Linked DNA regions of Homo sapiens: all the other regions are linked to region 2. The links come from fine-mapping of genetic effects on gene expression. A gene starts in region 2. Each other region holds a variant in brackets. All regions are shown on one strand. Distances are between the middles of the regions. Region 1 overlaps POLR2A (RNA polymerase II subunit A). Region 2 holds the start of VAMP2 (vesicle associated membrane protein 2). Region 3 holds the start of LOC124903913 (a long non-coding RNA gene).

Region 1 (8,177 bases), 650 kb before region 2:
TGAGGCCGGGTGCAGTGGCTTATGCCTGTAATCCCAGCACTTTGGGAGGCCGAGGTGGGCAGATCACCTGAGGTCAGGAGTTCAAGACCAGCCTTACCAACAGGAAGAAACCCCACCTTTACTAAAAATACAAAATTAGCAGGGTATAGTGGCACATGCCTGTAATCCCAGCTACTCTGGAGGCTGAGACAGGAGAATCACCTGAACCCGGGGATGGAGGTTGCGGTGACCCGAGATTGCACCATTGCACTCCAGCCTGGGCAACAAGAGTGAGACTGTATCAAAAAAAAAAAAAAAAAACCCTAAATGAAAGACCTCTCATATTCATGGATTGGAAGACTTAATATTGTTGAATATTAATATTGTTAATATACTTCCCAAAATAAGCTATAGATCCAATATAATCCCTATCAAAATTCCAACTGGCTTTTTCTCAGAAATTTATTAAGCTGATGTTAAAATTCATATGGAAATGCAAGGGATATAGAATAGCCAAAACAATATTTAAAAGTAGCAAAAGTTTGGAGAACTCACATTCCTGATTTCACAACTTACTACAGAGCTACAGTAAACAAGACTGTGCTTCTGTCATGAGGATACGTATAAAGACTGATAGAGTAGAATTGAGAGTCCAGAAATAAACCCTCACATTTATGGTCACTTGATTTTTTGCAAGAGTCCCAATTTAATTAAATGGGGTGAGAATACTCTTTTTAGCAAATGGTGCTAGGGCAACTAGATATCCACATGCAAGAGAATGAAGTTGGATTCCTACCTCATACCATGTACAAAAACTCTCAAAATGCCTAAATTGAAGAGCTAACACTATAAAACTCTTATAAGGAAACTTGAATAAATCTTCATGACTGTGGCTTAGCAGTGAATTCTTAGGTATGACACCAAAAGCATAAGCATCCAAAGGAAAAAATAGATGAATTGGACTTCATCAAAATTTAAAACTTAATGCTTCGTAGGACACTATCAAGAAAGTAAAAAGATAACACAGAGAATGGGAGAAAATATTTGGAAATCATCTGATAAGGGCCATACATAAAGAATATATAAAGGACTATAACAATAAAAAGTCAACAATAAAAAGTCTCAAAGGATTTCAACAAATGTTTCCTGGCTGGGCGTGGTGGCTCACGCCTGTAATCCTAACACTTTGGGAGGCTGAGGCGGGTGGATCACCTGAGGTTGGGAGTTTGAGACCAGCCTGATCAACATGGAGAAACCCCGTCTGTACTAAAAATACAAAATTAGCCGGGCATGTCGGCACATGCCTGTAATCCCAGTTACTCGGGAGGCTGAGGCAGGAGAATCGCTTGAACCTGGGAGGTGGAGGTTGCGATCAGCCGAGATAGTGCCATTGCACTCCAGCGTGGGCAACAAGAGTGAGACTCTGTCTCAAAAATAGTAATAAAATAAAAAAACAGGCTGGGCGCAGTGGCTCACGCCTGTAATCCCAGCACTTTGGGAGGCCGAGGCGGGCAGATCACGAGGTCAGGAGATTGAGACCATCCTGGCTAAGACGGTGAAACCCCGTCTCTACTAAAAAATACATAAATAAATAAATAAATAATAAAAAAAACATGTTTCCCCAAAGAAGAGTACTATTCATGTAAATGATCAGTAAGTGCATGAAAAGATACTCAACATCATTAGCCATCAGGGAAATGCAAATGAAACCAGAGTGATGTGCCACTTCACATGCACTAGGATGACTGTAATCCAAAACACAGATAATAACAAGTGTTGACAAGGATGTGGAAAAATTAGAACCCTCATACATTGCTAGTAGAAAAGGTACAACTGCTTTAGGAAGTTAAAGCAGTTACCATATGGCCCAGCAGTTTCGTTCCTAGAGAGATTATACACACACACACGAGAGAACAGAAAACATATGGCCACACAAACATTTATACACAAATGTTCGTATCAGTGTTACAGTAGCTAAGCAGTGAAAACAAGTGTCCATCCACTGATGAATGGATAGGCAAAATGTGATATGTCCATATGAGGGAACATCATTCAGCAATAAAAAGTAATGAACAGGCTGGGCCTACGTGGTGGCTCACGCCTGTAATCCCAGCACTTTGGGAGGCCAAGGCAGGTAGATGACTTGAGTTCCAGACCAGCAGCCTGCCCAACATGGTGAAACCCCCAACTCTACCAAAAATAGAAAAATTAAGTGTGGTGCTACATGCTTGCTATCCCAGCTACTTCGGAGGGTAAGGCAGGAGGATCACTTGAACCCAGGCAGCAGAGGTTGCAGTGAGCTGAGACTGCACCACCGCACTCCAGCCTGGGCGACAGAGGGAGACCATCTCAAAAAAAAAAAAGTAACGGACAGCCAAGCACAGTGGCTGATGTCTGTAATCCTAGCACTTTGGGAGGCTGAGGTGGGAAGATTGCTTGAGCCCAGAAGTTCAAGACCACCCTTGGGCAACATGACAAAACCCCATCTCTACAAAAAATTTAGCCAGGTGTGGTGGAGTGCACCTGTAATCCCAGCTACTTGGGAGGCTGAGGTGGGAGGATACCTGAGGCCAGGAGGTTGAAGCTGCAATAGTGAGCTGAGATCATGCTACTGTACTTCAGCCTGGGCAACAGAGTGAGACTCTATCTCAAAAAAAAAAAATCTGTCAAGCCACAAAAAGACAGTGATAAGCCAGATGCACTGGCTCATAACTCTAATCTCAACACTTTGGGAGGCCGAGGCAGGAGGCTCACGAGAGCCCAGGAGTTTGAGACCAGCCTGGGCAGCATAACGAAATTCTGTCTTTGCCAGTGATGAACCTTAAATGTATACTTGCTTAATGGAAGAAATTAGTCTGAAAAAGTTAGATACTGTGATTCCAGTTAAGTTTAATTTCGTATGTGACTATCTCATAACACATACGGGGAGCTTCCTATTTAGCTAACTGTTATAAAATGAATATTTACGGAGTAATTTTAACATAGGTTTAGAAATTTGGATCTTGGCCGGGCGAAGAGGCCCACACCTGTAATCCCAGCACTTTGGGAGGCCAAGGCGGGTGGATCACCTGAGGTCGGGAGTTTGAGACCAGCCTAACCAACATGGTGAAACCCCGTCTCTACTAAAGATACAAAAAAATATTAGCTGGGTGTGGTGGCACGCGTCTGTAATTCCAGCTACTTGGGAGGCTGAGGCAGGAGAATCGCTTGAACCTGGGAGGCAGAAGTTGCAGTGAGCCGAGATCGTGCCATTGCACTCCAGCCTAGGCGACGGTGAGACTCCGTCTCGAAAAAATTTGGATCTCAGATGGTATAGTAGCTTTCTTTGGATGTGCTGCATACCAGGTGCCAAATGGCGTCCTATAAATGGAAGCTCTTGTGTGAGGAAGGGGATGATCAAATAAGAGTTTTGTTTTTGTTAAGAGTCTGTCTGCCTTTTCCGAACTCATCTACCCATGTCCTTTAAGATTACAGTCCTGGCCCTGTGATAAGCCAGATGCAGATCCACATCGTACTCATTCACTGAAAGAGAGGCGTTGGCTTTGTCTGATGCTAGCTTTTTCTTAGGCGCATCCCGGGGAAATGGTGGGGGCTCTGGCTGCGCAGTCCCTTGGAGAACCTGCCACCCAGATGACCTTGAATACCTTCCACTATGCTGGTGTGTCTGCCAAGAATGTGACGCTGGGTGTGCCCCGACTTAAGGAGCTCATCAACATTTCCAAGAAGCCAAAGACTCCTTCGCTTACTGTCTTCCTGTTGGGCCAGTCCGCTCGAGATGCTGAGAGAGCCAAGGTAGGGATCAGGACTGCTGGGCTTTTTGGCCGGAAGAAAAGAAGGAGAACTCAACTGGGTATGGTGGCTCATGTCTGTAATCCCAGCACTTTGGGAGGCCAAGGCAGGTGGATCACCTGAGGTCAGGAGTTCAAGACTAACCTGGCCAAGGTGGTGAAACCCCATCTCTACTAAAAATAGAAAAATTAGCCGGGCATGGTCGTGTGTGCCTGTAATCCCAGCTGCTAGTTGGGGCTGAGACAGGAGAATCGCTTGAACCTGGGGGGCAGAGGTTGCAGTGAGCCGAGATTGTGCCACTGCACTCCAGCCTGGGCAACAAGAGCGAGATTCCATCTGAAAGAAAAAAAGAAAAAAAAGGAGAACTTTTCCCCTTGAATAAAGGGTTTTGGATTCCCTTGATAAGGAGGGTTAGAAGAGACGTTTAGAGCTACTCAGTTCCCTGTGTCATGGACTTCTGTCTCTTCCCAGGATATTCTGTGCCGTCTGGAGCATACAACGTTGAGGAAGGTGACTGCCAACACAGCCATCTACTATGACCCCAACCCCCAGAGCACGGTGGTGGCAGAGGATCAGGAATGGGTGAATGTCTACTATGAAATGCCTGACTTTGATGTGGCCCGAATCTCCCCCTGGCTGTTGCGGGTGGAGCTGGATCGGAAGCACATGACTGACCGGAAGCTCACCATGGAGCAGATTGCTGAAAAGATCAATGCTGGTAAGCCTAGGAGGGCTGGCCTGGCTCAGGAGCCC[C/T]GCTCTCTGGGCTACCACCTATCGTGTTCACCGCACTTGAGCCCCCAAAGAGCTACCCACCCTCACCCCCATGCATGTACCAGTTCCGCCCCTCCGAGGCATCCTCCAACTCTCCAGGTCCCCTCTGCACTCCCTTTCTCTTCTGAATGTTCTCCCTTCCCCTTTCCAGGGGGTTCTATGAAAAGAAAGTTTCTGTGAGGAGCGGGGAGCCAAAAGAGAGCCTTGCTCAGAGAGAGCTGCGAGTGGACAGTGGCTGGGGCCAGTCCCCTTAGCTGCAGCCTTTCTCATGGCTCCTCACCCCACCAGGTTTTGGTGACGACTTGAACTGCATCTTTAATGATGACAATGCAGAGAAGCTGGTGCTCCGTATTCGCATCATGAACAGCGATGAGAACAAGATGCAAGAGGTAATGGGGGTCCTAGAAGTCAGCGTGTCACATGTATAAAACGCATGAATCACGTTAGAGACCAAAGAAAAGAAGATGCAATCAACATTGAGGGGCGGCCAGGCGCGGTGGCTCACGCCTGTAATCCCAGCACTTTGGGAGGCTGAGGCGGGTGGATCACCTGAGCTCAGGAGTTCGAGACCAGCCTGACCAACATGGAGTAACCCCGTCTCTACTAAAAATAAAAATTAGCCGGGCATGGTGGTATGTGCCTGTAATCCTAGCTACTTGGGAGGCTGAGGCAACAAGAGTGAAACTATCTCAAAAAATAAAAAAAACATTGAGGGGCCAGTCATACCCACCTAATTTAGGGATAGGGAATGGTGATTAGCAACGATTTTCAAAATCCACAGCACCGGCCGAGTAGATAAAACAGGTGGTGTTGAAATAGGAGATAGGAGTGCCTCCCTGTCACGCTGTCACTTGGCTCTCCTCCCCCAAGGCTCCTGCAGCTTGCTTTGCTTAGGGAATACAAGCCCCACCCCTGAGGCAGGGGCCAGACTTGGGGGCAGGTTGGGCAGTAGGCATTGCTATGTCCTAGGGGAAGTCGTGTGACAGCCATAACAAGACCCATGAAAAGGCTGGATCAGTGACTTCACTCCTGGGCATGGCTCCTGAGATACTTGTTTGGCACATGTTGGTACCTGGTGCTTTAGTAATAAAAACTGAAGAACTCAGGCTGGGCATGGTGGCTCACACTTGTAATCCCAGCACTTTGGGAGGCCAAGGCGGGCAGATTACCTGAGGTCGGGAGTTCGAGACCAGCCTGACCGACATGGAGAAACCCCGTCTCTACTAAAAATACAAAATGAGCCGGGCGTGGTGGCGCATGCCTGTAATCTCAGTTACTCAGGAGGCTGAGGCAGGAGAAATGCTTGAACATGGGAGGCAGAGGTTGTGGTGAGGCAAGATCACACCATTGCACTCCAGCCTGGGCAATAAGCGAAACTCCATCTCTAAAAAAACAAAAACAAAAAACTGAAGAACTCACTAACTGCTGAACTGCTGTCAGAGAACAGTTATAAAAGCATTGATAGGTCTTGATGGAATACAGTATATGGCCATTAGAAGTGATCACTGTCATGCCAGCAGCAGCCTAGATGAACACACAGTGAAGTGCCAGAGCAGGGAATGGTGTGTGCTCGGGTACAGCAGTTGGGAGGATATGACATGTACGTGGAGCCCGCCTCTCGCTAGGCGCAGGACTGCACAAGAGTGGAAGTTGTGACGGGGTGGTGGGATTTGGGTGCCTTTCCTTAGGCTTCTTTTAATATTGTAAAATCAGGATTAAAAGTCTCACTGGAGAATTGCAGGAACATGGGAGGTAGAGGTTGCAGTGAGCTGAGATCGTGGCATTGCACTCCAGCCCAGGCTGATAACAGCGAGACTCCACCTCAAAAAAAAAAAAAAAAAAGTCTCACTGGAACTGTGAGGGGCAGAGCCTGGTGACTGACTCGTTTGGCCCTCAAAGAGGCTGTAGTTGGAGGCGAGAGCTGGGGAAGAGACCAGAGGATGCCAAGTGCTGACCTCACTCTCACTGCAGGAGGAAGAGGTGGTGGACAAGATGGATGATGATGTCTTCCTGCGCTGCATCGAGTCCAACATGCTGACAGATATGACCCTGCAGGGCATCGAGCAGATCAGCAAGGTCAGCCATCCCCTCTGCCACCGCCTTCCTCCTCCCACTCCCACACTCCCCTCCCTGCCTACTCTGAGCACGCTGTCTTCCCACAGGTGTACATGCACTTGCCACAGACAGACAACAAGAAGAAGATCATCATCACGGAGGATGGGGAATTCAAGGCCCTGCAGGAGTGGATCCTGGAGACGGACGGCGTGAGCTTGATGCGGGTGCTGAGTGAGAAGGACGTGGACCCCGTACGCACCACGTCCAATGACATTGTGGAGATCTTCACGGTGAGCCCGTGTGTGCTGCCTAGCTGCCTTTCGTGGATCTCTGGCTCTCAGGCCCCTCATTCTGTGCTGTCCACTCAGGACTTTTTCTGCCTGATTCCATTTCTGAGTGTGGGATATCCTGGCTCCTGACACCCTCCCTGGATCTGGGTGGCGACAGAAGCAGGGAAGAGAGCAGAGTTGCTCAGTCCTGGCCCTCCCCTCCACTTCCCTCCCCTGTGCCAGGTGCTGGGCATTGAAGCCGTGCGGAAGGCCCTGGAGCGGGAGCTGTACCACGTCATCTCCTTTGATGGCTCCTATGTCAATTACCGACACTTGGCTCTCTTGTGTGATACCATGACCTGTCGTGGCCACTTGATGGCCATCACCCGACACGGAGTCAACCGCCAGGACACAGGACCACTCATGAAGTGTTCCTTTGAGGAAACGGTAACAGTGGAATTTCTGAATAGGGCAGAAGGAGGGAGTAGTGTGAGAAGAAGGGCACACACTTTGGGCAGCTGGGCTGTGGTGATGGGACAGTCAGGTGCTGTGTGTGGAGGGGTCTCATGGGGCCGGTCTGCTCTGTTCAGGTGGACGTGCTTATGGAAGCAGCCGCACACGGTGAGAGTGACCCCATGAAGGGGGTCTCTGAGAATATCATGCTGGGCCAGCTGGCTCCGGCCGGCACTGGCTGCTTTGACCTCCTGCTTGATGCAGAGAAGTGCAAGTATGGCATGGAGATCCCCACCAATATCCCCGGCCTGGGGGCTGCTGGACGTGAGTATGAGGCCCCAGCTGCGGTACCTGCTTGCGTCGGCGAGGCGGGGGGGCAGGCCATGGGTGCAAGGGTGTCACCAGTCCATGATTGCTGTTCTTGCTCCTCACGATTTCCTGTGTTCCTCTTTGCAGCCACCGGCATGTTCTTTGGTTCAGCACCCAGTCCCATGGGTGGAATCTCTCCTGCCATGACACCTTGGAACCAGGGTGCAACCCCTGCCTATGGCGCCTGGTCCCCCAGTGTTGGTGAGTAACCTGATCCAGGAAGAGGGCCCTCCAGGTGGTTCAGAGGTGGATAAGCTGGGATCGTGAACGGTAGCCATTGTTGGAACTCTGAAGGCCGCAGAGGGCTAGTGAAAGGTGGGGCAGGGAGAATTGGGGGCCTTTGGTCTCCCGCTCTGGCCTTAACTTGCTTCTCTCACTCTATAGGGAGTGGAATGACCCCAGGGGCAGCCGGCTTCTCTCCCAGTGCTGCGTCAGATGCCAGCGGCTTCAGCCCAGGTTACTCCCCTGCCTGGTCTCCCACACCGGGCTCCC
Region 2 (8,144 bases):
TTTTTTGTGTGTATTTTTAGTAGAGATGTGGTTTCACTGTGTTGGCCAGGCTGGTCTTGAACTCCTGACCTCGTGATCCGCCCACCTCGGCCTCCCAAAGGGCTGGGATTACTGGCGTGAGCCACCGCGGCCGGCCACTCATTGTTGAAGCACCTGGGAACAGGGATACTAAGATGCCACATCGGGGCCTCCTGGACCTACAGGCTGTGGCAGTTCAGTGTGGGGTCTAAAGTCACAAGTCATACAACAGAGTACAGGGGTAGTAGGCCATCTACAGGCAGCTCCACAACATACTCAGCTTTGTCTCTGTGAGCCTATTTAAACCACAATTTACTAACCCCATCTGGGCGCTGGCACTGGGTTAGGCACAGAGGGGAAGACATGCTTCACAGAAATGGCCAACTACTTCATCTACTGCTGCACGGGAGCCACGGCAGAGCGTCTAGAAGTTAAATCGAGGAGTAGAAAGGAGTCCAACAGCAGGAACATGCCCCAGTAAAGGGAAACGAAAGCTGGGAACCCTAGACCACAGGGCGCACCGGGCTTAGAGACACGGGCTGGCTATGACACTTCCCATTACCAACTCCTAGTGCCCCCCTGTGGCCACTTTGAGAATCACACTTTGCCCTGCCCAAGGTCAGGGCCTCTTGCAAAGTCCAGTCCATTACCAATGTATCTTCTCAACCTTCCTGGTATACCTTCCGATCCAATATTATTCCCATTGGTTAAGAAAAGATCTTATTCTCCCCCAACCAAAAAAAAAAAATAGAAAAATAAAAAAGATCTTAGACAACACCTGGTTACTCATTACACATTTATTGTACATTTTCACAATCTGGATGCGCCACAGAATTGGGGGCATGGGGTGGGGGAAGAGGGGGGCAGGGGACACTGGGATAATATGGGGGGTCTAAAACACAGCACCCCCACCTCCAGCATCTCTCCTACCCTTTCACACCACAGCTTAGATATCCCTGCTCCCCCTCCACACAGAAAACCAGAAGTGTGGGGGGAAGAAAGTTTGGGGGCCCCCTCCCGTGGCAGGTTAAGGGACTGTACCCTCAAACCCTTAAAATTGTGCCATTTAAAAAGACAATAGACCCTTCCTCAATCAGTTCACCCAATGAGAGGACAGCTCTCTCTGGGCTCAATAGTCCTGGAGAGGGGCAAGCATCCCCGTTTTCCAGCAAGTCCCATACACACATTGGCAGTGACTAGTACCCCCACCCTAAATTCAGGGGGGGCAGTCAGAGGAGCTGGGCAGTGATGGGGCAACACCCCCCAAATTGGGGAGGAGGGTTTTCAGTCCAACCCCCAGCAGGGGTGAGGCCAGAGATTTCAGGCAGGAATTGGGGGGATTCTCTGCCCTGCCCCACTCCTCCCCAAGGCAGTGATGACCCCCACACACACACTGGTAGCCACCCCTCTCACAAGAGATCAATTGTGGCCAACCCCCAACTCTCCTGGTGGGAGGAGGAGGTGGATCAGGCAGATGGGAGGGAAACCCCATGGGAATGTCAGTTGAGTACCCCACATGAAAACTGGGGAGCAGGAATGTAGGGAGAAACCCGAAGTGGCAGAATTATTGGTCCATCATAACATACTGAACTTCAAGACACTTACATACCAGCTGGGGGAGGGAGAGGAGGGTACAAGAGGTTTGGAAAATGAGGGTAAGGGAGGCAAACTGGACTAGAGGGGCTAGGAGGAGGCAATGCTGGGGACCAGAGCAGCCTGGTTCCCCAAAAGCCCAGGCTCCCCACCACCTGCGAGTAATGTCGTGCAAATGAAAATGTGATACAAGAACTAATGGGGACTAACTCCTCAGTAAAAAAAGAAACACAGGTTGAGAGAAGAGTGATGGAACAAAAAGAAATGGAAAGGGATAGCAGTATGTAATGATACGCTAATTAACATGCTGGACGCTCCCAAAGACCTTGGGATTCTTAGGACCAAGTGGGGCCAGTCTCAGAGCCTCCCAATGGATACAAAGAAGATGTACCTAAGGAAGCCTGGACAGGTGCTGTTGTTTTTTTTTTTTTTTTTTTTTTTTTGAGGGCGGGGCAGAGGGAGCATGACGGGGAGAGTGAGGAGGAAAGAGGAAAGGAAGGCCAGGGTGGGAGGAAGGATCAGCTAAATCTGAGGGAAGAAGAAGGAAAGGAGAGGGACTATTGCATAGCAGATGCAAATGAAGGGACTTGGGGCTAGTCAGGAAGAAAGGGAAAGGGAAGGAAGGCAAGAGAGAGGGGTGAAGGGAACCTCAGGAAGGGGTGTTAAGGACAACCGGAAAAATCATCTAGTAATAAAACTACAAACAGACCAAATATATATAATATTATATATGTATAAATAACAGCTGGCTATTTACAGGGGGACACACACACGGACACACACACACACGGATCCAGGGGAGTGGGGGCTGAAAGATATGGCTGAGAGGTGGAGGAACGGCTGAGGGTTGGGGGAGAGGCCCTTCTCTAGGCAGGGCAGACTCCTCGGGGATTTAAGTGCTGAAGTAAACTGTGGAGAGAGGGGAAGAAGATGAGGAAGAGGGAGAGGGGAGAGAAAGAGAGAGAACAAGAAAGCAGTGTGTCAGGCCTGGCCCTGCTCCAATCCTCCCCACTCCCCAGCTGGCTGACACCCTCTCTTGGACTCAGTTTTTCCATCTACAAAGCAAGGGGCTAGACAGGTAGGTTCTGAGGTCCCTTCCGCTCCATGGTATGGCCTTGAAGCCACAGACCCTAATCCTCTGAGCCTCTGAGACCGCAAGCTCTCAAATAATGGGGTGGTTGGCTTCCTGGTCATGTCTCAAGCCCCTGGTCCTTTCCTTTCTCCCACTCCTCAATTCCAGGGTTCTCAGACTGGGCTCTTAGGCCTAAAGGGTCCTCAATGGATACACCAGCTTTCCTATTTCCAAATGTTAACAAGACTGCCAAGAACTAGGCAAAATGCAGGCTAAATAACATCAAAGTTTTTGGCTCTAGATGAATCAGAATTGCCATTAGCAGCTATATGTGTTTTTGGCTGAAGAGTAAAAACTAGATTAATGACCTTCAAAACCTAGAATCCACTGGGGAAACCTCTCCAGGGAAAGGGCCCCGGCCATTCTCACCCTACTCACCTATGATGATGATGAGGATGATGGCGCAAATCACTCCCAAGATGATCATCATCTGGGGGTGAGAGGCGAGGATCAGTAAGACAAACTATGATACCCCATTCACCCACCTGTCCTCCTTCCTGTCCCCACCCTTACCTTGAGGTTTTTCCACCAGTATTTGCGCTTGAGCTTGGCTGCGCTTGTTTCAAACTGGGAGGCCCCCGCCTGGAGTGCATCTGCACGGTCGTCCAGCTCCGACAGCTTCTGGTCTCGCTCCAGGACCTTGTCCACGTTCACCCTCATGATGTCCACCACCTGGGAGAAGGGCCCACGAGGCAGGGGGGTGTGCCAAGGCCCACCTCAGTGAGGGCAATCCTCAAACATGTGCCCACCGTGCCACACATGGAACATGCACCCTGATACTGCCAGGTTAACATGCCAAGGACACACAGAACATGCCTAGCACACCTGGGGACATGCAAGGAGCACACATCAGGGGCATGCTGGTGACATCTCAGATGTCATAGCAACACCCTCCCTCTATGGAACCTCAGGCGCTCTGTCCATCACCAGAGCACACCTGCCCAGGCTGGCACACCCCAGGCTAGCAAAGCTGATTAACACCCCCAGCGCCCTTCCAAGTGCGTGCTGACAGGGAGACAGGGATGGGGCATGGTATCTTTGTCCGCAAACCCACAGGCGTGAACTGTCATCACTCCCAAACCAACATGGGCCCCTACACCTATACGCCAACCCCCAGGGTCCCTCCTACTGCTTTTGACTCCCCCCACACTCACCTCATCCACCTGGGCCTGGGTCTGCTGCAGTCTCCTGTTACTGGTGAGGTTTGGAGGGGGTGCAGGGGGACCACCCTCCCCAGCCGGGGCAGCAGGGGGGGCCGTGGCAGCGGTAGCAGACCTGAGGAGCAGGGACGGATTAAGACCCAGGGCCTGCAGCCTCCCGGCCCCGCAGCCAGGGCTCCGCCCATCCACCTGTCCATCCTCGTCCCTCCAGTCCTCCTTTTCGGGAGGAAGGCCACCCGATGTAAGCCCTGGTCTCGGTCCAGCCCTGCCGCCGATGAGCTGCGTGACCTTGAGCGAGGCCCCCCCGGCCTCAGTTTCCCCGCCTGTCAACTGAGGGCGACCTCACAGATGCGATCCGGGTCGACCCGAAAAGACAGGCGGCCGCGGTGACAGGGGCGGGGAGGGGCAGGAGGACACTGGGTCCGCTCCTTCCCGCGGCCATCGCCCGAGCCGGCCAGCCCGGGACGCGGGGCTCCTCGGCCGCCCGCGCGCAGTCACCGGCTTGGGCCTGGCCCCGGGGCGCGGGGAACGCAGGAGAGACCCCGGGCACTCCCGACGGCCGGTTGCCAAGGGCGGCGGCCGGCGCAGGGAAGCGCGGTGAGGGTGGCGGGCGGCCGACTCACATGGCGGGGGCAGCGGGTGGAGGACTTGGCAGCGGCAGTGATGGCGGCGGCGGCTCGCGCTGGCTCCGACTGGCGCTGGCTGCCCGGGACGGAAAGATGGCGGCCGCGCGTCACCCGCATCCGGGCACTGCGGGCGGGGGCGGGGCGCCGCGGGAGACGCGTCGCGAGCGGGGCCGCGGGGGCGGGGCGCTGCGGGGCGCTGCGGGGCGGGGGTCGTGCCGGGCAGGACCACGGGCCCCGCGCCACCATGCCCCGGCAGCTCCCTCGGCACTCGCGGGACCCCAAGGCGGGCTGCTGCGGCTTCCCCAAACCCACCGCCACCCCACCCTGTCTGACCACAGCCCCCCCAAACCGCCTGCCGCCTGCCCCTTAGAGCACAACGCAGCCTGGCCCTACACCTAACCCCCAGACCACTCCCTCAATCGTGAACCCAGTAAACCAGCCTGCACCCCACACAGCCCAAGGTCTTGCCCCGCGCCCAGGTCCCAGCACCTAGCGACCCGCCTTCAGCACTTGGAATGGGCTGGAGTTGGGAAATCAGAGAGGGCCAGTGCAGGTGCTGGGGCAGTATCGAGAGCGGGGACCTTACTGCTAGGGTGGAGAGGAGTGGGGGAGATTGGTCCCAACCCATCACCGCTGGTGGATGTCTCAGAGGAAGCCTGGGGTCCCTGGCCACTGGGTAGGAGGGTAGGAAGAAAAGATGAGGCAGGCTCTTCCCGCCCAAACAAGTCCAGGGGGCGGAGGACGGGGGAGTGTCTACAGGGTGTGGGGAGGGGGCTGCCCCGCCTCACGATTAAGGTTCAGACTAGGGGTACTTAACCGCTGGAGCAGGCCCGACTGAGGTGGGGTGAGCTGAGGACCCCGAGGAGGAGGGCACAAGGCTGCCGGGGGTGATGGGGGCAGGGGCTGCTTCACGTGGTGGCTGCTGACTGGCCAAGACCTAGCTTTGCCCCAGGCTTAGGTCAGCGACCCGACTGCAGGAAAGGGCTCAGGCTTTGGTCCCAGGCACAGGGCCTGGGCCAAAAAAAAAAAAAAAGCCTTTTTTCTTTTTCTCTCATTTTTTTTTCTTTAGTAGTAGGCACAGTGGGCACAGGTTACAAGGTGCTGCTTTACATGCGTATTCGCCTCGCAGGTGTGACCTTGGACCGTTGCCCTCCTCTCTCTGGACCCCAAATACATTGCATATGTAGGTACTAAATCCATATTTGTTAAATGGCTTGATGTGGATAACATAGGAGATTATCCCTGGCTGGTCTCCATTAGGCCCTCTAAGCACACCCAGCAGCTGTATACACTCCCACCCAGCTTGTCAGAGAAGATGGGACCAGGGGAGCTGTCGCTCTGGTGGAGTGCAGGGGGTCAAAGCAAGCCTCAAGGGTGCAGGAGGCATTTTAGGCGAGGCCCTTTGGCCCTGGGGTGGGGGTGCTTACTACATCCCTGGAAGGTGCAGGGAGGCTGATGGCCTTGATCTCTAAGACAAACAGGAACCAGCTTCCTCCCTCCCCCACCCTGGCTTCCCAGGGCCTCCGGGTGTGAGATCCTCCCCCACTGCAGTGCCCCACCCGCTCCCCACAGAAGCCCGGAGAGTGGCTCTGTCACCAGAGGTGTCATTTCCCAGCTGTCTGTGGGAGGTGAGTGAGCAGGGAATGTGTGTGCTGGGTGTGGGAACTCAGCCCAATCTAAGAGAAGATACTCTTGGCTTCCTCCCCCTCAGAGGAGCAGCCGCGTCCCTGGTCCTTGTGCACTGACAGTCCCGGGTGGCTCAGCCTATGTGATGAGAAAGAAAAGAGCAGCTTCCACGGGGGTCTCAGATCATGCTGTGAGATGCTGGCTCCTGCTTTTTGGTCTTCAAATGATTCCTCTTTCTAGTCAGAGAACAAAGATGCCAAATTCCAGCCTTTTAAGTTCAAAACCCTCAGTGTCTGTCAGGGTATAAATAAGACATGGAGGATTGGAAGAGGCAGGCACAGGAAGCCCTTCCGCCCCCAGTTGGACACCCTGCACTAACTGAGGGGAGCCTAGTGCAGAGCCAGACAAGACATTTGATGCTGGTTTGGGGGTGATGTGGAAGGGACAGAGCCCCAGATACACGGTCAAGGCCAGGGGTCGTGCTATTGCTATTGGATCGTGGGGACGGCAGCAGCAGAGTAGAAATGAGGGCATGTGTGACCCACGGAGATGAAGGGCCCAGGAGGATTCATCTCAGAAAGAGGACTCTCATCCAGCAGCCCCTTCCCACCCCACCCCACCTAGGCTGTGGCTCAGAGGAACTCCCCAAATTTAGATCAATGGTGGAGGTGGGAGAAGGAGTGGGATGACGGAGTTCACCTGGAAGTGACTGAGAGAATGTTTTCTGCAGGCAGGTAGAATGGAGACCCAAATAGAGGTAAGTTGAACAATAGAAAAATAATGTATTTGCATAACTCAGATTTGGCTTCTACATGTACTGGCTTCGGGAATTGGCCAATGATTTTCTAGGGCACACCCCCAAGACTCATTCAAAGGATGTAGGACTCAAGGTGATGGTGATGTAGGCAACAGAGACCACACTTTCTTTTTCTTTTTTTTTTCTTTTTTTTTCTTTTTTGAGACAGAGTCTCTGTCTGTCACCCAGGCTGGAGTGCAATGGCGCGATCTCTGCTCACTGCAAACTCCGCCTCCCAGGTTCACGCCATTCTCCTCCCTCAGCCTCCCGAGTAGCTGGGACTACAGGCGCCCACCACCCGGCCCGGCTAATTTTTTGTATTTTTAGTAGAGACAGGGTTTCACCGTGTTAGCCAGGGTGGTCTTGATCTCCTGACCCCGTGATCCGCCCGCCTTGGCCTTCCGAAGTGCTGAGATTACAGGCTTGAGCCACCGCGCCTGGCCGAGACCACACTTTCATAAACGCTTTCTTTTATTTTTTATTTTTATTATTATTTATTTATTTATATTTAAGATGGAGTTTCGCTCTTCTTGCCCAGGCTGGAGTGCAATGGTGCGATCTCGGCTCACTGCAACCTCCACCTCCCGGGTTCAAGTGATTCTCCTGCCTCAGACTCCCAAGTGGCTGGGATTACAGGAGTGCACCACCACGCCCGGCTAATCGTTTTGTACTTTTAGTAGAGACGGGATTTCACCATGTTGGCCAGGCTGGTCTCGAACTCCTGACCTCAGGTGACCCACCCACCGTGGCCTCCCAAAGTGCTGGGATTACAGGCGTGAGCCACCATGCCCGGCCTTATTTCGTAATTTTTTTTTCTCTTCAGACAATTACTGGTTTAGAAGTCGGCCGGGGCTGCAGTGCAGTGGCGTGATCTCGGCTCACTGCAACCTCTGCCTCCTGGGTTCAAGAGATTCTCCTGCCTCAGGCTCCCGAGTCCCTGGGATTACAGGCGTCCGCCACCATGCCTGGCTAATTTTTCTATTTTTAGTAAAGACAGGGTTGCGCCATGTTGGCCAGGCTGGTCTCAAACTCCTGACTTCAGGTGATCTGCCCACTTTGGCCTCCCGAAGTTCTGGGATTACAGGTGTGAGCCACTGTGCCCGGCCTTTTTAATTATTTTTTTTGAGGCAGTCTCCCTCTGTCACCCAAGCTGGAGTGCAGTGGCACAAGCTTGGCTCACTACAACCTCTGCT
Region 3 (8,177 bases), 36 kb after region 2:
TCACTTGAGGCCAGGAGTTCAAGATCAGCCTGGCCAACATGGCAAAAGCCCTGTCTCTACAAAAAGTACAAAAATTAGCTGGGAAGCCGGGCGTGGTGGCTCACACATGTAATCCCAGCACTTTGGGAGGACGAGGTGCGCAGATCACCTGAGGTTAACAGTGCCAGACCAGCCTGACTAACATGGTGAAACCCCGTCTCTACTAAAAATACAAAAATTAGACGCGCATATTGGCGGGTGCCTGTAATCCCAGCTACTCGGGAGGCTGAGGCAGGAGAATCGCTTGAACCAGGGAGGCAGAGGTTGCAGTGAGCCAAGGTCGCTCCATTGCACTCCAGCCTGGGTGACAGAACATTTCATCTCAAAAAAAAAAAAAAATAGCTGGGCATGGTGATGTGTGCCCATAGTCCCAGCTACTCGGGAAGCTGAAGCACGAGAATTGCTTGAACCCAGGAGGCAGAGGTTGAAGTGAGCCAAGGTCGCTCCATTGCACTCCAGCCCGGGCGACAGAACATTTCATCTCAAAAAAAAAAAAAAAAATAGCTGGGCATGGTGATGTGTGCCCATAGTCCCAGCTACTCGGGAAGCTGAAGCACGAGAATTGCTTGAACCCAGGAGGCAGAGGTTGAAGTGAGCTAAGATCACACCACTGCACTCCAGCCTGGGCAACAGAATGAAACGCTGTCTCCAAAAAAAAAAAAAAAAAAAAAATTCAGAGTCTATAAATTTTTATTGGAACACAGCTATGTTCATTCACTTATGTATTGTCTTTTTTTTGTGTGTTGTATTGTTGTTGTTTTTTGAGACACAGTCTTGCTCTGTTGCCCGGGCTGGAGTGCAGTGGCACCATCTCAGCTCACTGCAACCTCCGCCTCCCGGGTTCAAGCGATTCTCTGCCTCAGCCTCCTGAGTATCTGGGACTACAGGCATATGCCACCACACCCGGCTAATTTTTTTATCTTTAGTAGAGACAGGGTTTCACCTTGTTGGCCAGGCTGGTCTCAAACTCCTGACCTAAGATGATCTGCCCAAAGTGCTAGCATTACAGGCATCAGCCACAGTGCCTGGCCTCCAACAGCATTTTATTTTATTTTGTTTTATTTATTTATTTATTTTGAGACGAAGTCTCACTCTGTCGCCCAGGCTGGAGTGCAGTGGCATGATCTCGGCTCACTGCAAGCTCTGCCTCCCGGGTTCATGCCATTCTCCTGCCTCAGCCTCCCCAGTAGCTGGGACTACAGGCGCCCGCCACCATGCCCGGCTAATTATTTGTATTTTTAGAAGAAACGGGGTTTCACCGTGTTAGCCAGGATGGTCTCGATCTCCTGACCTCGTGATCCACCTCGCCCCACCTGGCCCGCCTCAGCCTCCCAAAGTGCTGGGATTACAGGCGTGAGCCACTGCGCCCAGCCCCCAACAGCATTTTAAAATATTATTTTTAGAAAGTAAAAATTTCTATGTAAGGGCCAGGCACGGTGGCTCACATCTGTAATCCCAACACTTTGGGAAGCCGAGGCCGGTGGATCACCTGAGGTGAGGAGTTAGAGACCATTCTGGCCAACATGGTGAAACCCTGTCTCTACTAAAAATATAAAAATTAGCTGGGTGTGGTGGCGCATGCCTGTAATCCCAGCTACTCGGGAGGCTAAGGCAGGAGAATCACTTGAACCTGGGAGGTGGAGGTTGCAGTGAACGGAGATCATGCCATTGCACTCCAGCCTGGGCAACAAGAGTGAGACTCCATCTCAAAACAAACAAACGAAACAAAACAAAACAAAACAAGATGTCTATGTATATTAATGCAATTGGGAACAGCCCATGTTATACGTAAGAAATGACTGTTATTTCCATCTTAAAGACTCACAAAAGGCCAGGCGCAGTGGCTGGCTGGGTGCCGTGGCTCACGCCTGTAATCCCAGCACTTTGGGAGGCCGAGGCAGGTGGATCACTTGAGGTCAGGAGTTCAAGGCTGGTCTGGATAACATGGTGAAACCCTGTCTCTATTAGAATCGCTTCAACCCAGGAGGCGGAGGTTGCAGTGAGCTGAGACAGCGCCACCACACTCCAGCCTGGGTGACAGAGTCTGTCTCAAAAAAAAAGACTCACAAAAATACAAAAATAACTTGGCCAAGGTCACATGGCTAATAAGCAATGGTGAAGGAATTCAAAGTGAGACATGCTGACTCAAAGTGAAAGCTCGATCATCCACAGGTCTCACCCCTCCATAGGCCACAGTAGGGGTGGGGGTCAGATTACCCACCCTCAATGTTGCCAGTGCCCACATTACTTCACAGAAGTAGAGAGAAGTTATCTGCCGACCTATCAGGGGAACAAGCAAGGCTGGATATCTTTTCTGCTTTCTTTTTTTGGCATCATCCATTCAGTGGGAAGGTAAGGTGATCATCAAGTCCCAAAAATGAACAAATGCCCCAGTCAGCTATGCTCAGCATTTAGAAGAATGTCAACTAGGACAGTTTTCTCCCCATACCCCAGGGCATCAGCCCTTGTATTGTCTGTAGGGCTTGTTGAGTGGGATGGGGGTGGAATGCAGGTTTTATGTGGCATGTAGAATTATGCCATGGTTTTACATTACATTTGGGGATGGCTCTTGCTCTGGATACTTGGAATTTTCACGTGTGAGGAGATGATGTCTTTGTTTTCTTTTCTTTTTTTTTTTTGAGATGGAGTTTCCCTCTTGTTGCCCAGGCTGGAGTGCAATGGCCCAATCTTGCTTCACTGCAACCTCCACTCCCGGGGTTCAAGAGATTCTTCTGCTTCATTCTCCCAAGTAGCTGGGATTACATGCACCCGCCACCACGCCCGGCTAATTTTTTTTTTTTTTTTTTTTTTTTGTATTTTTAGTACAGATGGGATTTCACCATGTTGGCCAGGCTGGTCTTGAACCCCAGACCTCAGGTGATCCACCCGCCTCGGCCTCCCAAAGTGCTGGGATGACAGGCATGAGCTGCCGCGCCCAGCCGAGGTCAGAGCTTTAGTGATGGAAGTGGAAGAGCAGTTACAGAGGAGCATCCATTGGTGGGGAAGGACCAGAACTCTTAGGGAAGGGCTTCTGAACCCCTCAGAACCACCTGGGGAGTTAAAAGCGACATGGATGCTCCAGCCTCAACCCAGATCAATGAAATCTGAATTTGTTAGGGCAAGGCCTGGGAGTTTTTTGTTTTTTGGTTTTTTTTTTTTTGAGACGGAATCTCGCTCTGTCGCCCAGGCTAGAGTGCAGTGGCACGATCTCAGCTCACTGCAAGCTC[C/T]GCCTCCTGGGTTCATGCCACTCTCCTGCCCCAGCCTCCTGAGTAGCTGGGACTACAGGCACCCACCACCACGCCCAGGTAATTTTTTTTTGTATTTTTGGTAGAGACAGGGTTTCACCGTGTTAGCCAGGATGGTCTTGATCTCCTGACCTCGTGATCCGCCCGCCTCAGCCTCCCAAAGTGCTGGGATTACAGGCGTAAGCCACCGCGCCCGGTCTCCTATTTTCTTTTTAAGTCCTTCAGATGTTTCTAATGTGCAGCCATTGTTGATAACCCCTGAAGATAGGACCTTGCCAGCCATGATAAGGAGTTTTGATTTTATTGTAAATACACCGAAAAACCAAAGGAGGGTTTTGAACAGAGGAATGATATGCTCTGACTTTGACTGTTGGGGGAATGGACTCTAGGAGGCAGGAACAGAAGAAGCAGAGAGAATAGTTAGGAGGTTGTTATCACCCAAGCCAGAAAGGATGGTGACTTGAACCAGCATGAGAGTGATGGGGTGTGTGTGTAATAAAGGTGGGCCTCTCCATGGATTTGGTTGGCAATAGGAAGAGTTGGAAGATCTGGGGAGGTGAGGAAGAAAAAAGAGAGAAACCAGGAATGATTTCTAGGTTTTTGACCCAAGTAACTGGGTGCTAAATGATAGTGCTATTGACTGAGATGGGGAAGTTACAACTTTTTTGATTGGGTGGGCACTGAATTAAGAATACTATTTTAGGCCAGGCGTGGTTGCTCCCGCCTGTAATCCCTGCACTTTGGGAGGCCAAGGTCGGGGGATCACCTGAGGTCAGGAGTTCGAGATCAGCTTGGCCAACATGATGAAACCCCCGTCTCTACTAAAAATACAAAAAAAAAAAATTAGCTGGGCATGGTGGCGTGTGCCTGTAATCCCAGCTACTCAGGAGGCTGAGGGAGGAGAATCGCTTGAACCCGGGAGGCAGAGGTTGCAGTGAGCCGAGATCATGCCACAGCACTCCAGCCTGGGCAACAGAGCAAAACTCTGTCTAAAAAAAAAAAAAAGTACTATTTTAGGCATGCTTACTTTGAGAAGCCTATTAGATTGCCAAGAATGTGTTAGTCTCAAGCTTGATAGGGACGTCAAGGTGAGAAATACAAATGTGGGAGTCGTATTTAAAACCACGGGCTGGGCCGGGCACAGTGGCTCACGCCTGTAATTCCAGCACTTTGAGAGGCTGAGGCGGGTGGATCACCTGAGGTCAGGAGTTCAAGATCACCCTGGCCAACATGGTGAAACCCCTACTGAAAATATAAAAATTAGCTAGGCACAGTGGCACGCGCCTGTAATCCCAGCTACTCGGGAGGCTGAGGCAGGAGAATTGCTTGAACCCGGAGGGCGGAGGTTGCAGTGAGCTGAGACTGTGCGACCGCACTCCAGCTTGGGTGACAGAGCGACTCCATCTCAAAAATAAAATAAAAATAAAACCATGGGTTTGGCACAGTGGCTCAAGCCTATAATCCCAGCACTTTGGGAGGCCGAGGTGGGAGGATCGCTTGAGCCCAGGAGTTCAACACCAGCCTTGGCAACATAATAAGACCCCATCTCTACAAGAGAAAAAAAAATTACCCGGGTGTGGTGGTGTGCACCTGTGGTTCCAGCTGCTCCAGAGGCTGAGGCAGGAGGATTGCTTGAGCCCACAAGTTCAAGGCTGCAGTGAGCTGTGATCACACCACTGCACTTGAGCCTGGATGACAGAGTGAGACCCTGTCTCAAAAAAAAAAAAGAAAAAGAAAGAAAGTCGCAGCCAAAGATTTCATATTTGATACCCAGATTCTTGTGTTCCTGGAAACCAAAGTTTCCAGTATCTGAGAAGTTAAGAAAAAATAATTCATACTCCCATACCTTTGGACCTTTCTCCAGGATTTCTTCTGCCTTGGCCCCTGGAACTGTGCAGTCAACAGTAATCTTTTCATTTCTCCTGAAAACAAAAGATCTGACAGTGCATCTAGTTTTGGAAAACACAGGGGTCTGGCCTGTGAGTTGCTCCAACACCTTGGCTGCCTGTGTCAGTCTGTCGTCACTCTTCTCCACACAGATATTGAGGCAGAGCTTACAGATATAAAGTTGGCCTGAGCCAAACTCCCTGGCCTATTTTTTTTTTTTTTTTTGGATGCTAGATGTTTGCATGGTGATGAGACTTATCCAGCCAAAAAAAAAAAAAGGATATATAGATATAGATATAGATATAGATATGTGTGTGTATACACACACACATATATATATATATATAAATGGTAGAAAAGCGAAAGGGGACAATTACTGGAATGAAGTTGTTGAATAGTAGGAGGCCTGGGTTCAGAGTATATCTGGAGGGGCTCCCTGACAGGACTTGAGAAGGGGAAAGACAGATAATAGGTGAACAGAGGTAACTTGGGGCAATTGGTGATTGGAATGTACAAGACCCCTGTTTGGTTCTGCTGTTTCTCAGAGAAGAGGGGGTATCACTAGTGTGGGAGCTGTGGGGAGCTTTGGTGTTTTCGGGAGTAGAAAAGCCAATATATTGGGGATGCTTTGTAATGTTAGAGTAGGTAGACATGAAGGCAGGAAAGAGGGCCTCCAGGTATGCTGGGCATTTGTCAAGCCATGGTCAAGCGATTAGAAATCTGTCCCTCTGACATAATGAGCACGAGAAGGGAAGAACCCCCAAGCTGGTTCTCATCGAGTGAAGGACCGGCAGGCATACAACCATCCGTCTGAGATAATAAGTGGCCATCGCTGGTGCTGGGAGTAAGAGGAGTCTTGCAACAGGAGTTAGCAAGCCATCACCCCTATAAGGTTTTAAGTATGTGCAGTGAAAAAAGAAAATGGTTGAATTTGATCGGTATCTAACCTTCCTGTGGGGGCTCTGGACCAGAAAGGGCGAATTGCCCCTAACGAGCATGCGCTGGACTTCGGTGAACACTGCGCATGCGGTCCCTCCCAAACGCCGGCAGGCCACTGCGCATGCGGCAATTAAGCCACAGCCCGCTCAAGGGAAGAACATAAGGAGGAGACAGAGAGTGCGGGAAAACGTAGGGGGTGTAAAATCTCTAAACATGCCGGGCGCGGTGGCTCACGCCTGTAATCCCAGCACTTTGGGAGGCAGAGGCGGGAGGATCACGAGATCAGGAAATCGAGACCATCCTGGCTAACACAGTGAAACCCCATCTCTACTAAAAATACAAAAAATTAGCCGGGCGTGGTGGCGGGCGCCTGTAGTCCCAGCTGCTCGGGAGGCTGAGACAGGAGAATAGCCTGAACCCAGGAGGCGGAGCTTGCAGTGAGCCGAGATTGTGCCACGGCACTGCAGCCTGGGCGACAGAGCGAGACTCCGTCTCAAAACAAAAAACAAAAAACTCTAAACAAAGAAAAGGAAGGGGCGCTTGATTTTTCAAGTCTCCAGCCTTGTCCTCTTCTAAGTGTACTGTCTTGTAATAAACTCTCACTTGGCTTAAAATCAGTTCTCCCTTCTGCCTTAAACCTTGCCTTTGGCCGGGTGCGGTGGCTCACGGCTGTAATCCCAACACTTTGGGAGGCCGAGGAGGGGGCGGATCACGAGGTCAGGAGTTCGAGACCAGCGTGGGCAATATGGTGAAACTTCGTCTCTACTAAAAATACAAAAATTAGCCGGGCGTGGTGGCGCGTGCCTGTAATCCCAGCTACTCGGGAGGCTGAAGCAGGAGGATCGCTTGAACCCAGGAGGCGGAGGTTGCAGTGAGTCGAGATCGCGCCATTGCATTCCAGCCTGGGCAACAGAGCAAGATTCCGTCTTGAGAAAAAGCAAAAACCTTGCCTTTATCTCGTTTGAATTCTTGCCCTCGAGAAAACAGAGGAGAGAGGTTGCTGCAGAGTTGCAACTCCGGAGTTTCCCGGATAGCTGCAGGCTTACCCGCAGGTAACAGTAGAAGTAGGAGTCAGCGTTAAGGCTGTGGGAAAATAGGTGTCCTTCATTATTGCCGGTGGGAGTGTAAACTGTCCACCACTTAGAGGGGCATTTTTGGTGATATCTATAGACCGTTTACCTGCGTGTACCCAGCATTACCACGTCTTTCTCTAGATGCTGGTACTCTCCATTGCCATGTCTTTCTTCAGATGTCCCCTAGAGGACAACTAGAGACCATCACAAAGGTGCACAGGAGGCACTCAAAAGACACTGGCCACAGTGCAAAGCATTGGAAATAATCTGCATGTGCATCCAGTAGAAGAGCTTTAAAAAAAACCCTAGGGATATCCTTATTAAAAATTATAGGCTGAAAGGCCGGGCGCGGTGGCTCACGCCTGTAATCCCAGCACTTTGGGAGGCCGAGGCGGGCGGATCCCGAGGTCAGGAGATCGGGACCATCTTGGCTAACATGGTGAAAACCCCGTCTCTACTAAAAAATACAAAAAAAAAAAAAAAAATTAGCTGGGCGTGGTGGTGGGCGCCTGTAGTCCCAGCTACTCGGGAGGCTGAGGCAGCAGAATGGCGTGAACCCAGGAGGCAGAGCTTGCAGTAAGCCGCGATCGTGCCACTGCACTCCAGCCTCGGTGACAGAAGACTCTGTCTCAAAAAAAAAAAAAAAAGAAAGAAAGAAAATTACAGGATGGGTGAAGTGGCTCATGCCTGTAATCCCAGCACTTTGGGAGACCCAGACGGGTGGATCACTGGAGGTCAGGAGTTTGAGACCAGCCTGGCCAACATGGTGAAACCCATCTCTACTAAAAATACAAAAATTATCTGGGCGTGGTGGCACATGCCTGTAATCCCAGCTACTCGGGAGGCTGAGGCAGGAGAATCGCTTGATCCTGGGAGGTGGAGGTTGCAGTGAGCTGAGATTGTGCCACTGCACTCCAGCATGAGTGACAAAGCAAAACTCCGTCTCAAAAAATAAAAAATAAATAAGCACCCCGCCCATTTCTTTCTCCCTAGA

What was found. PIP is the estimated chance that this variant, and not a neighbour inherited with it, causes the effect.
Region 1: its variant is the best candidate, but not a certain one, in a credible set for the expression of VAMP2 in spinal cord (GTEx, PIP 0.77).
Region 3: its variant is the best candidate, but not a certain one, in a credible set for the expression of VAMP2 in whole blood (TOPMed, PIP 0.83).

The regions. Positions count from the first base shown.
Region 1 is chr17:7,504,705-7,512,881 of GRCh38, forward strand. It overlaps POLR2A (RNA polymerase II subunit A), which reads left to right. Exons shown (of 30, transcript NM_000937.5): 20 at 3,547-3,771; 21 at 4,240-4,486; 22 at 4,828-4,928; 23 at 6,511-6,615; 24 at 6,702-6,884; 25 at 7,107-7,310; 26 at 7,454-7,640; 27 at 7,773-7,886; 28 at 8,070-8,177. Among named protein-coding and RNA genes, the nearest start is that of POLR2A, 24 kb to the left of the region's middle. RefSeq lists an enhancer at 6,563-7,762. The variant C/T (reference allele first, on the strand shown) is at 4,522.
Region 2 is chr17:8,158,352-8,166,495 of GRCh38, forward strand. It overlaps VAMP2 (vesicle associated membrane protein 2), which reads right to left and starts at 4,597. Exons shown (of 5, transcript NM_014232.3): 1 at 4,527-4,597; 2 at 3,898-4,018; 3 at 3,257-3,415; 4 at 3,122-3,173; 5 at 798-2,520. The coding sequence starts at 4,528. The coding sequence ends at 2,504. RefSeq lists enhancers at 295-534, 3,765-3,814 and silencers at 655-704, 3,925-4,034, 4,325-4,514, 4,675-4,774, 4,905-4,964.
Region 3 is chr17:8,194,083-8,202,259 of GRCh38, forward strand. LOC124903913 (a long non-coding RNA gene) reads right to left here and starts at 6,146. Exons shown (of 2, transcript XR_007065604.1): 1 at 5,131-6,146. RefSeq lists enhancers at 1,945-2,254, 5,854-6,343. The variant C/T (reference allele first, on the strand shown) is at 3,267.